Linked DNA regions of Homo sapiens: region 1 is linked to region 2. Evidence: fine-mapped expression QTL. A gene starts in region 2. The other region holds a variant in brackets. All regions are shown on one strand. Distances are between the middles of the regions. Region 1 holds the start of MS4A1 (membrane spanning 4-domains A1). Region 2 holds the start of MS4A14 (membrane spanning 4-domains A14).

Region 1 (5,388 bases), 58 kb before region 2:
CAGAGTCACCTGTGAGTTTCTCATTTCCATTCATGCTTTTCTGCCTTCAGTCTTTCTCTTTTCTAATCCATTGTCCACAAGGCTGCTACATCAAGCTCCCGATCACTGTTTTGAGTGATGCTCTTCCTGAGCCTGAACTCCTTTGCTGGCCTGTCATTACCTGCTGGAGAAACCCTTCATCTAACCCCTCAAGGCCTTTGGAATTCAGCCCTGTATGACTTCCCAAGCTCATATCCCACTACCGCCACCAGAGCCACTGGTCTATACATGTCCTCTACCTTCTTTCCTGAATCTTCTCAACTTTGAAGTGTTCCTTCTCCCTCCCTCTTTACTTTCAATCAAACTCTGCATTAGATATGCACATCACCTGAGGGCGTTCCTGCTCTCCTTGCCTGATTGCAAGGAATTCTTCAGAGCTCCTAGCTCTTTGCTTTCCTTACTAGACATCAACTACTTTCTTCGGAGAATCCTGTATCCTACTAGACTTGCATAGGGAACCTGTTTTCTATGTACTATGAGCTCAGTTACATTAAGCTGAACATCAAACTCAGCTACTTCCTCAGGGAAGCTTAACAAGTGCTCACAATGGCCAGGTGCAGTGGCTCACACCTGTAATCCCAGCACTTTGGGAAGCCGAGGCAGGTGGATCCCCTGAGGTCGGGAGCTCGAGACCAGCCTGGCCAACATGGAGAAACCTTGTCTCCACTAAAAAATGAACAAACAAACAAAACACACACACAAAAATGCTCACAATGCTGGATTAAACATTTCTTTCCACCGGATTCTCAGTGAGATTAAGCCATTTTATGGGAAACAGGGAAAGGGAATCACTTATATACTGGATTCAGAAAACAGTAATGGCATGATTAAAATTAATCCTTGTTTTCCTTCATTAGAGCTCCCCCACATCTGCAGCGCCCCCTCTTACTCTTGGTTTCCCATGTGATAGATTTGAGGCAGGATTTCATGCTCAACTTGGTGTCCACAAATCCCCTCCAGAAAATGTTAGCCTGTAAAGCCACCTATACTTCTAGGTATATTTACATTTAATGTAGACAAAAGCATTTACAGGAAGACAAATGGAGTTTTTTTCATTATGCCTATGACTGATTATTTTCTCATTTGGTATTGGGAAGTCCTAAGGGATTCAGGATTTTAGTTCCAATTTTCCTAATGTAATGGGTACCATTGCCCCCATTTTATAGATGAGGAAGCTGAGGCTTTAGAGGTTTAGTAATTTGCCCAAGGTTATATTGTTTGTTAGTGGTAGAGCTCCAGTTTGAACCCAATGGTTTAGAAACCATGATTTAATATATATGCTGCAATCTACTACTTTTGTGGAATGATTCACAGTTGACTGCATAGGGTAATTGTTGAGAGGGAGACTGATTAGAGGAGTGAGTGGGCAGCAAGCCTTGATATCGTCACCCCTCCTTAAGTCATAGAACTATTAGGAAGTCTGACTAGGGAAACTCTAGAATTAAGATCAAGAACCTCCAGTCTTCAAAACCATTCTATACCTTATCCATCACCTCCTTTAAGTCATTTAAAGAAAGCAAATTGATTCCTTACCTGAGTCTCCAAGGCCTCAAATCTCAAGGGCTGATTTGGATGCTAGCTGCGGAGTTCAGTGGGTGCAGTTTGTTTCTCAAGCACACTGGGAGGGTGAGTGGTGTAGTCCAGGCCTGAAGATGAAATCGCTGATAGACATCAGGTGACAGGAAATCAGTAGCTTCTGCTACCTTGGGCTTCGCTCCAATTACTTTGGTTTAACACTTACCATAGCTGAAGGAGGTGCAAAAAAAGTTTCTGCCTTACCAGGTTTCACTTCTTGAAAAAGACCCCAGGGGACTGCCTGGCATGCTCATGCTACCTTAATTAGAAGAACTTCTGCAGCCCCCACCCTATAAGCAGGTGTGGATGGTAGGTCCCTGAGGACAAGAAAGATTCTAGAAGTTGGTCAAAGATGGGCCGTTAGCACTGACTTTTACCTTCTGGCTTCACTTTTAGGGCTGAGTAGGTGGGCAGGAGGCATCCATGCAGAGATTCAAGAATCACTGAGGCTGTACACTTGGCAGCACTATACTTAGGGGTCCCCAAATATTGTCCTCATTGGCTCACACTTAAGTTTCTTATGAACCATGTATATATCTTGTGTCAGATTTAGCAGAAATGGCCTAAAATTATACTTTAGTGCCATAGTACATGTACCCAGCCACTCAAAGCAAGAATTAGCCTCCATATTTGGAAATATAAATTGAAATAGCACTTTTACCTCTGAACCCACCTTTTTCTTCTGTCTGTCAAGTTCCCTTGTGTCCCCTCTCTTTTTAGTCTAGTCTGGAGCTGCAGGGTCATCAAGCACAGTACTAGATCAAGTAGGGAAATGGAAGAAGTTGGTAGTGTCAGGAGAGTCTAAATATTTGGGATGTGAATCAAAGTTTTGCCCAAAGATAATGTCCTCTCTCTCCCCCTACAATATTCAACTTTTATGTTCATATGTGGGATTTTTAATTACATTTTTATTTCCCTGTTCATTGCTTCATTTTATTAGAGACACAGAGCTATAGTTAGGTAATTATTTGTTTATTTAATCTAAAGGGATGAAATATGGCAGGCAGCTCTGTTGCCTAATTCGAGGTTCATTCCTGTCTCTCTCTTTCATCTCTTCTCTCTTTCTCTTTCTGCCTCTCTTTTTAAATTTAAGATAGTTTGGAACCATAGGGTTAGATCCACTGGGTAGAAGTAGTTCTGGGGAGGCTGATTGTGGTGTGATATTTAAAAAGATGCCACTCTAAAAAAAAAAATTGTTGGAGCCGTTCATTAGGGGAACTGGCTACCATTTCAATAGAGAATTTACTTCTTCAAGAATACTCAAGTAAAGTCATGCAGTCACCTCTCAGAGATGCTGTAGAGTGAAGGAGAGTGGGAACAGAAGATCCATCATCCATTTAACATTCTAATTGAGGGTCTATGCATATCTGCTGAAATGCTTGAGTGATTGGTGATGGGAGGACAATTACCTAGGGTCTGAGTTGTGGATGATTGTGAAACCTGAGGTTTGAGTCCTGGATGGTGGGGTGGTTAGAGGCATGTGCCTTCATTTTAGTTGGCATGGGAACAGGGTCAGGACTTGGCAAATGTATGGCAGCAAAGGGGCTTGAGTTGTGGCAGCACAACCTGGTCTTTTGCATCCTTTTCTCTGTTTGAGC[C/T]CTGTATTTCCCCAGTCAGTCTCAGGTTGTTTGCTACTTTGTGGCCAATGAGATAACTTAGGTGGCTCTATGTATGATTCTTCCCAAATAAACTTGAATTTGAATTTGTATGAATGCATAAACATTTACCTTGTCTTTGCTCATTTGAATGATCAACATTTTAGTGCTTGAGTGTGTTGAAATTCTCACTACAATTTGGACTTGTCAATAGCATCTTATTTGATGTATCACCATCACTCTTCCCCCAAGGTTTGAGAATATTTTATTAGGTTGATAACATATTTAAAATATTTCTCTTTGAATTAAGCCTATTTTCATTATCTAGTGACCTTGCTTCCAAAAGACAATCTTAAAGTCTACATAAAAGTATGCCAACTTTTATTTAGTTAGTATTTTCCTGATGTGAATTTCCTTTTTATTCTCTGCACGTCCCAGCACTCCAATTTTTTTAATCATTGCCTTCTATATGAAAACTGTGTGCTACATCATAATTATTTGTGTCCTTGCCTTAATCAGCCATTGTCTCCTTGTCCCTTGAAGGCAGGGTCAGTTTTTGTGATTGCTGTGTCCCTGGCAGTGCTGAGAAGGAATGGTTCTGTTTGGCTTTTTCTTTCACCCAGGTGATTGTCCCCAGGCTCTCCAATATTAGGAAGTAACATTATGCCACGTTCTCAACTTCTCAGCAAGGCCCTGGCACCCAGAATTATCTGCTGTTGGAGGGTTCTGGTGTCAAAGAATTGGTAAGGGAGACATAGGGCTCGTCAGAGGTGAGGCTAAAGATCTAATTGCAAATAGAACTTGGTTACAGGTCAGAAAATCCCATTGTTGCACTTATAAATAATTCATAGTAAGGAAAATGTAAATTGAAATACTTAAGAACTTTATAGTTGATAGGGTCTTCTTTCTCTTCTAAGGGACTATACATTTGGAACAGCTAGGAAGGTAATATTAGTTAAATAATTCCTTTTATGTCAAGAATTGTCCACATATAAGCCTTACCACACATATAATATTGATTCTGTTTTATAATTGTGGAAACTAAATTTCAGGAAATGGAGGAAGCCATTCCCAAGTTGGAAAGCTGGTAAATGGTAAAATAAGTGATGTTTAGAGCAAGAAAATCTCAATTATAAATTTCAAAAACTAGCATTTACTAAGTGATTTTTAAGTTCCAGGCACTGATAAACTCACTTTCCATGTTTCATTTAAGGTTCACAGTAAACCCATTAGGTAGGTATTACTATTATTGCATTCTAGTCTAAAAATTTTAAGCCCGCAAAGATTAATTTGTTCAAGTGACACAGCTTTAAATGGCAAAACATTTATTATTATTCGTTTTAAGATATAAAAATGTCTGATGTACTCCCATGTGCAGATTACTGGATCACTCCCTTTGCTTTTGTGACGTGGGAATATAGCTGAAGAAAAAAATGCAATTATGACCTCATAGTTATTGAAAAGAGTTTTTTCTCTTATGTACCAATAAATATGCTATCATTGGAGATGAAGTGTTACTGATATGTAACGGTAACATTTTTCTGCAGGTGTTGACTATAAAAATATCATTATGTGATAAAAAATTTAATGAAAATAAGATGTTGTTTTGCTTTCTCAATTATATTTCTCAAAAAATTAAATAATATGTATGAAAAAGTACTTATAACAGTGAGACAAGAAACCATGTGCCCACAGCCATGATTAGAGATACAAGAGTGTCACTGATACCTTTGAAAGCTCTCAGGTTATCCTTCCCCAAGCCACCCTCTTTATCAGAGCTCACAATTATGCTGAATTTGGTGTTTATCACTCTCTTCCTTTTCATTGTATTTTGACTTTCCACATATGCTTACATTTCACACGGACATATTGCTTAGTTTTTGTGTTTTCTTTTTTTTTTTAATTTATTTATTTTTTATTGATAATTCTTGGGTGTTTCTCACAGAGGGGGATTTGGCAGGGTCATAGGACAATAGTGGAGGGAAGGTCAGCAGATAAACAAGTGAACAAAGGTCTCTGGTTTTCCTAGGCAGAGGACCCCGCGGCCTTCCGCAGTGTTTGTGTCCCTGGGTACTTGAGATTAGGGAGTGGTGATGACTCTTAACGAGCATGCTGCCTTCAAGCATCTGTTTAACAAAGCACACCTTGCACCGCCCTTAATCCATTGAACCCTGAGTGG
Region 2 (5,388 bases):
CCTCTATTAAACCCTCACATCGCACCTGGAACTCTCCTCTTAGAGCACTTAGCACAAGTGTAGGAACAAATATTTGGGGTTACTTTTGACTTTTTCATGTCTAGTCTCCCAGTTAGATGACAAACTGTCTAAATCTAAGAACAATTCACCACTTCTCTCAGAGAGGAGCTGTTTTCCAGTATTCTCAGTCTCAGCACCTAGGATGCCATTGAAGACGCGGTATGTGCTCAGTAAATATCTTTTAAGTGAAAAGTAGAGTTTTCAAAAGCAGCATGCCAGAATCTCATTTTAATTCACACATGCAGAGTACACAAAGTCACACTGGGACAATTCTGTTGTGAAATGAGAAAGTGAGGGGTTGGTCTGTTTGATTTTCTACAGTATGGCATGTATAGTTTGAAAATCATATTGAATATTACATTATTTATATTGGGAAAATGAAAACACTGCTGGTTGTTTCTGAAATGCACATTATAGAAAAGGCATGGAGTATTTCTGTTTATCAAAAGAGACTGTGGATTTTTAATAGTCAGAGATAGTGGCCTAATTTATTAATTATTTCACCTATTTGTTGATTGATTGATTGATTGATTCATTCGTTCGTTCATGCACACTATGCCTCAAGCATGATTCTAGGTTCTCAGAATATAACAACTAAAACAGACAGTAACACTGCTGTCTTCTCAGGAGTGTATGTTATAGTAGGAGAAGCTCTAATGAGTCTGTCCTTAAATATTATGGCACAAAATTAGGAATCCAGGCTGTGGGGATTGGATAGAAATAGCACTGTATTAAGAATAATATTTATGGCTATATGATTATCTAGATGAGTGCCACTCATAAAGTTGTCTCTGGGGCTAAGAAGGAGGATGAGTGATAATAATTTTAAAATTCTTTTTAAGCTTTCAGAGTCTGTGATTCCATGAGTGCTAGCTAGGCTAGATATGTTTAAGTTATTCTCTACTTTTGAGCTCAGTTTCCTTATTTGCAAAGGAATAAGTAGGATATTTGTGCATCTAGTCTCCCAGGTTGGTATTGAGGAGCAAATGTCTTACTATACACACAAGGGCTTTGGAAACAAATTTTAAGCACCTGAGAGTAGTTATTACAATGATGATGGTAGTGCAGTGACCAAATGGAGTTGCTTCTTTTGCCGTGAAGGGAGCTGCCTTTTTTGGTCTCCTGGAGGGCCATATTTATGGAATTCATTACCCTAGGACGTGAAGCAGTTCAAATCTATCTTTATAGCAATTTCTCCAAAGCTTCTAATCGACAGTACTCACAATAAGTGCTCCCCAGAATGGATATCCTGTGAGGACAACAAGGGGAAGTCTTTGGGAGAAACCGATGTAATTAAGTGCAAATATAGTTCCAAAGCCCACAATGATTAGAGCAAGCAGGATCTGGGTAGCCTGTGAGGAGAGAAATGGGTACATGAGGTTACAAGTATCCAAGACCCTGTGGGCTACCCCACGTCCCTCAGGGTGTGCCTCCATGGCACACCTTTCCCTCCATCCAAATGCCTTCCTCTCTCATTTGTCAATCATTCTCAGATTGTTAAGAGACTCAGTTCAATGTGTTTCCTTCCCACTTTGCTTGCCTGGATCCTTCAGGTTCAAATCCTTCACTTTTATTCTTTATTATTTTCTATCTTCCCTGGTGTTACCAATTAATCTTATATCAGACAGATTTGAGTACATGTCTGACTACCCCCAGATTATAAGCTTCTTGAGCACAGGGACTATAAACTATTCACCTTTACATTTGTTTTTTCGTCTGTCTCACCAGTATCCTATTATTATCCTAACAGCCCCCACCCCCACATTTTCCAGCACTCAGTATAGGCTTTTGGAATTGGGGCTCATCCCAGTTGTCTAAAAATTTAAAAAGTTTGATGACATAGAGTGGAGAACCTGGGATGAGCTTGCATTTCACCTCCCCTTCATCCATGGACCCAACTAGGGATGAGAATAGCCCAGTGGGCCTATCAGCTTGTAGGAATCTGCAGGGAAAAGAATAGCAGCAGTGGTTCTCAGGGCGCAACTTCTCTGGCAGTCTAGATTTTGTCCCCAGGCCACATCTCTGGGCTGTGGCACACCAAGTAATGATTTTTGCTGTTGTACAAAGGATGGAGGCTGTGCATACAGCTCTCCCCTGGGTGCATTTGTGATGAAAAACGTTTTGCATGCCTTATCATTTGGTTCACTGTGGAGCTTTGAATATGGGTTTTGAAGCACTCCCAATTCCTTTAAGAGCATGAAGGGGAAGTCAAACCTCTCCACTTATGGTTTCTTAGCTTCAAGGGAGGTGCCACCACACCCTGAAGTCACTTCCTCAATGAGATATTTTAAAAAGTTATACTAGTTTCTTGCTTCCCCCTCTGCTGGGATTCAAAGATCAGTACTAATTTCTCATGTAAGGTGAAGGGGGAAAAGTAGAATTAACTCCCTCCCTGAAAATAATCTCTGCATATCTCTGCAGACATACATGAATAAATAAACTTCTTTTCTCCCCTTCTGGAAGACCTATTGACTGGAGAGGACTTACCCCCAAGACTCTTGGCTCTCCCTTCAGAAAATCCAGCAGAGAGCTATGAGGTCTGTAGGGAAATGCAGTCAATACAGTTTCGTTTGGTTTTATAGTGATGACGTGAGTTGCCCTTCTGTCCTGGGATGTTGACTCCATGATTCTATGGCAGAACTCTAGTAAGGGAAAGAGTGAGCAAACATTGCCGCCCAAATCATGATCTACCTCTCCACCAGAGTCACATGGAGCCCTCAGAGATGAGCCCTTAGTGATGACTCTACTCAGTAGTAGAATCTCAGAATCATAGTTGAGTCACAGAGTTTTAGAATTCTAGAGCATGCTCAGCCCCCCATCTTCCTGGTGAAAAGTACTGTATCCAGAAGACTTACTCTCTTGTCAATTTGCTTACAAACATATGGTAAACAAAGAATAGATGGTATATACGAAACAAGTCCTTACACATATGTTCATGAGTTATAAAGGAACTAAAACTTATGGAATATTCCTTATGTTCTGGGAACTGTGTAGAAGGTGTTGACATGCACTAACATTTATTCTTTTAACAGTTCTACAATACTGAAACTGAGGAACAGCAAGGTTATGTCACCCAAAGACATACAGGACAGGGAAGGGGCAAACTCAACTTGACCTGTCTCCAAAATCTATGTTTTTTAAACTCAGCCACGCTTCTGCCCTCCTTTGAAAGGAGTTTCTTTTACTTGATGAATTTTCTAACTTACTGTTTAACCATATTTCTCTGTATTATAAAAATCAGTAGATAACTTTGAATTTCGATTTTTTTCCATCTTTATTGAGGTATATTTGACAAATAAAAATTATATATATTTAGGGTGTACTACATGTTTTGATATACATATACATTCCAAAATGATTACCACAATCCAGCTAATTAACATATCCATCACCTCACGTAGTTATCTTTTTTCTTTTTTTGTAGTGAGAACATTTAAGAACATTTAACAATTCTTTGCATTTTCAAATTAAACAAAAAAAAATCAGTAGTAAAGATGCTATAGGACCAGATGGAGTTGCCCCTTTATAACAGAGAATATTTTAGCTTTCATAAAGTTAAGCAAAATCTAATGATAGTCAAATCCTTCCTGGTTTGAACTACACAAATACTAATTAAAACAACAGAAACTGCCTTTAGAAATTTTGCTTCCCATATTGATCCTTTATATTCCTAAATTTATTACAATTTTAACTATGAGATCATGAAGGTAAATTGTTTCATAAAACTAAAACCAATGTATACACATAATAACTTGAGTATTTCCTGGTTTGTAGCGACCATCGATAGCAGGGTATCTCAAAATGAGCACTGATGACATTTGGACTCAATAATTCTTTGTTGTAGAAAGTTATAAGATATATATATTTTAAACTATGCTACTCCTCATTTATTTAGGAAACCTCATATGCATAGAGAGTGCAAAGTTAAACTGCAGCCACACTGGAATTTCCATAATTGCCCAAGAAATCGAGTTTAATGCAGAGGCTCACACAGAACATATTACACAAAGAACAGACAAGATAATTGCAGCAATGACTGGGAAGAAAGAATACGCCCATGTGGTACAAAGTGCAGGGGTGATGATCTGAATTACAAAACTGTGCTATAGATCAAAATAGAGCTAATACCCAAACAAAGAAATAGACATTATTCTTTTCAGCATGAGCAGCATTTAGCTCCAAGCTAGAAGCAGAAAACATGCCAGTCAGAGATTATCTGTAACTTGTTAAGACTAAGATGTCTTCATTGACTCCTACCCTGAAATGACAGAAGAGAACATAGTTTATGTGCCAACGACTGAATATTCTTTTTTATTTTATTTTATTCATTTATTTAAAATAAATGAATTCAAAGACTATATATAGTCTATTTTTATTTTTATTTATTTTTTTATTTATTTTGAGATGGAGTTTTGTTCTTGTAGGCCGGGCTGGAATGCAGTGGTGCAGTCTCCGCTCACTGCAACCTCCCCTTCCCGGGTTCAAGTGATTCTTCTGCCTCAGCCTCCCAAGTAGCTGGAACTACAGGTGCGCACCACCATGCCTGGCTAATTTTTTGTATTTTTAGTAGAGACAGGGTTTCACCTTGTTGGCCAGGCTGGTCTCAAACTCCTGACCTCGGGTGATCCGTCCACCTCGGCCTACCAAAGTGCTGGGATTACAGGAGTGAGCCACCGCGCCCAGCCAAGAAGGCCATTTTTAAACAATAGAATGAGCACCACTGGTTGGTGCCACAGGATTGCAGAGATTTGGATTTACATGGTAAGATTCATGGGAGGCAGGGACATGCTTGCTGTGTGTTGAGAGGTAATCCTAAGCACTTGAGAAGATCTCTTTGCTGTCTTCCACCTAATGGCTCATGAAAAAGGGCCCAGTAGATCTGTTTCTCAGAGAGTGTCCAGGGCAGAGTAGTTTAATTATATATAGTCTTTAATTTTTAATTAAAGTTTTCTTACAATCCCTAATATGTAATATTTAAGCAATATGAGTGTGAAAATAATACAGAAACAGCCTGCAGAGTCACGCAACTTACCAAATTCACACTAGCATGAGTGCACATTTTCCCTTCTGTGTATCACCTTCTGCTCAGTTTACCCAAAGCAGTTTATAAAGTTTATGACCATTTTGGAAGACTGGCTGATAACATTTATTGACTTGGGCTTTGAGGAAATTATTTTCAAGAGAAATTAAATAACGACTCATAGTAAACAAATACAAAACAAAAGCTTTTTTTTTTTTAGTTTGTTTCACAGTATCTAAAATGGCAGAGATTTCAGGAAAGTCTAATCACACTTGACCATGAGTGTTGAGTTGCTTTTCCTTCCTCTG

What was found. PIP is the estimated chance that this variant, and not a neighbour inherited with it, causes the effect.
Region 1: its variant is the best candidate, but not a certain one, in a credible set for the expression of MS4A14 in whole blood (TOPMed, PIP 0.66).

What each region holds. Positions count from the first base shown.
Region 1 is chr11:60,452,130-60,457,517 of GRCh38, reverse strand. It overlaps MS4A1 (membrane spanning 4-domains A1), which reads right to left and starts at 1,671. Exons shown (of 8, transcript NM_152866.3): 1 at 1,573-1,671. The variant C/T (reference allele first, on the strand shown) is at 3,213.
Region 2 is chr11:60,393,876-60,399,263 of GRCh38, reverse strand. It overlaps MS4A14 (membrane spanning 4-domains A14), which reads right to left and starts at 2,805. Exons shown (of 5, transcript NM_032597.5): 1 at 2,548-2,805; 2 at 1,284-1,412. The coding sequence starts at 2,685. It overlaps MS4A7 (membrane spanning 4-domains A7), which reads right to left. Exons shown (of 7, transcript NM_021201.5): 7 at 3,316-5,388.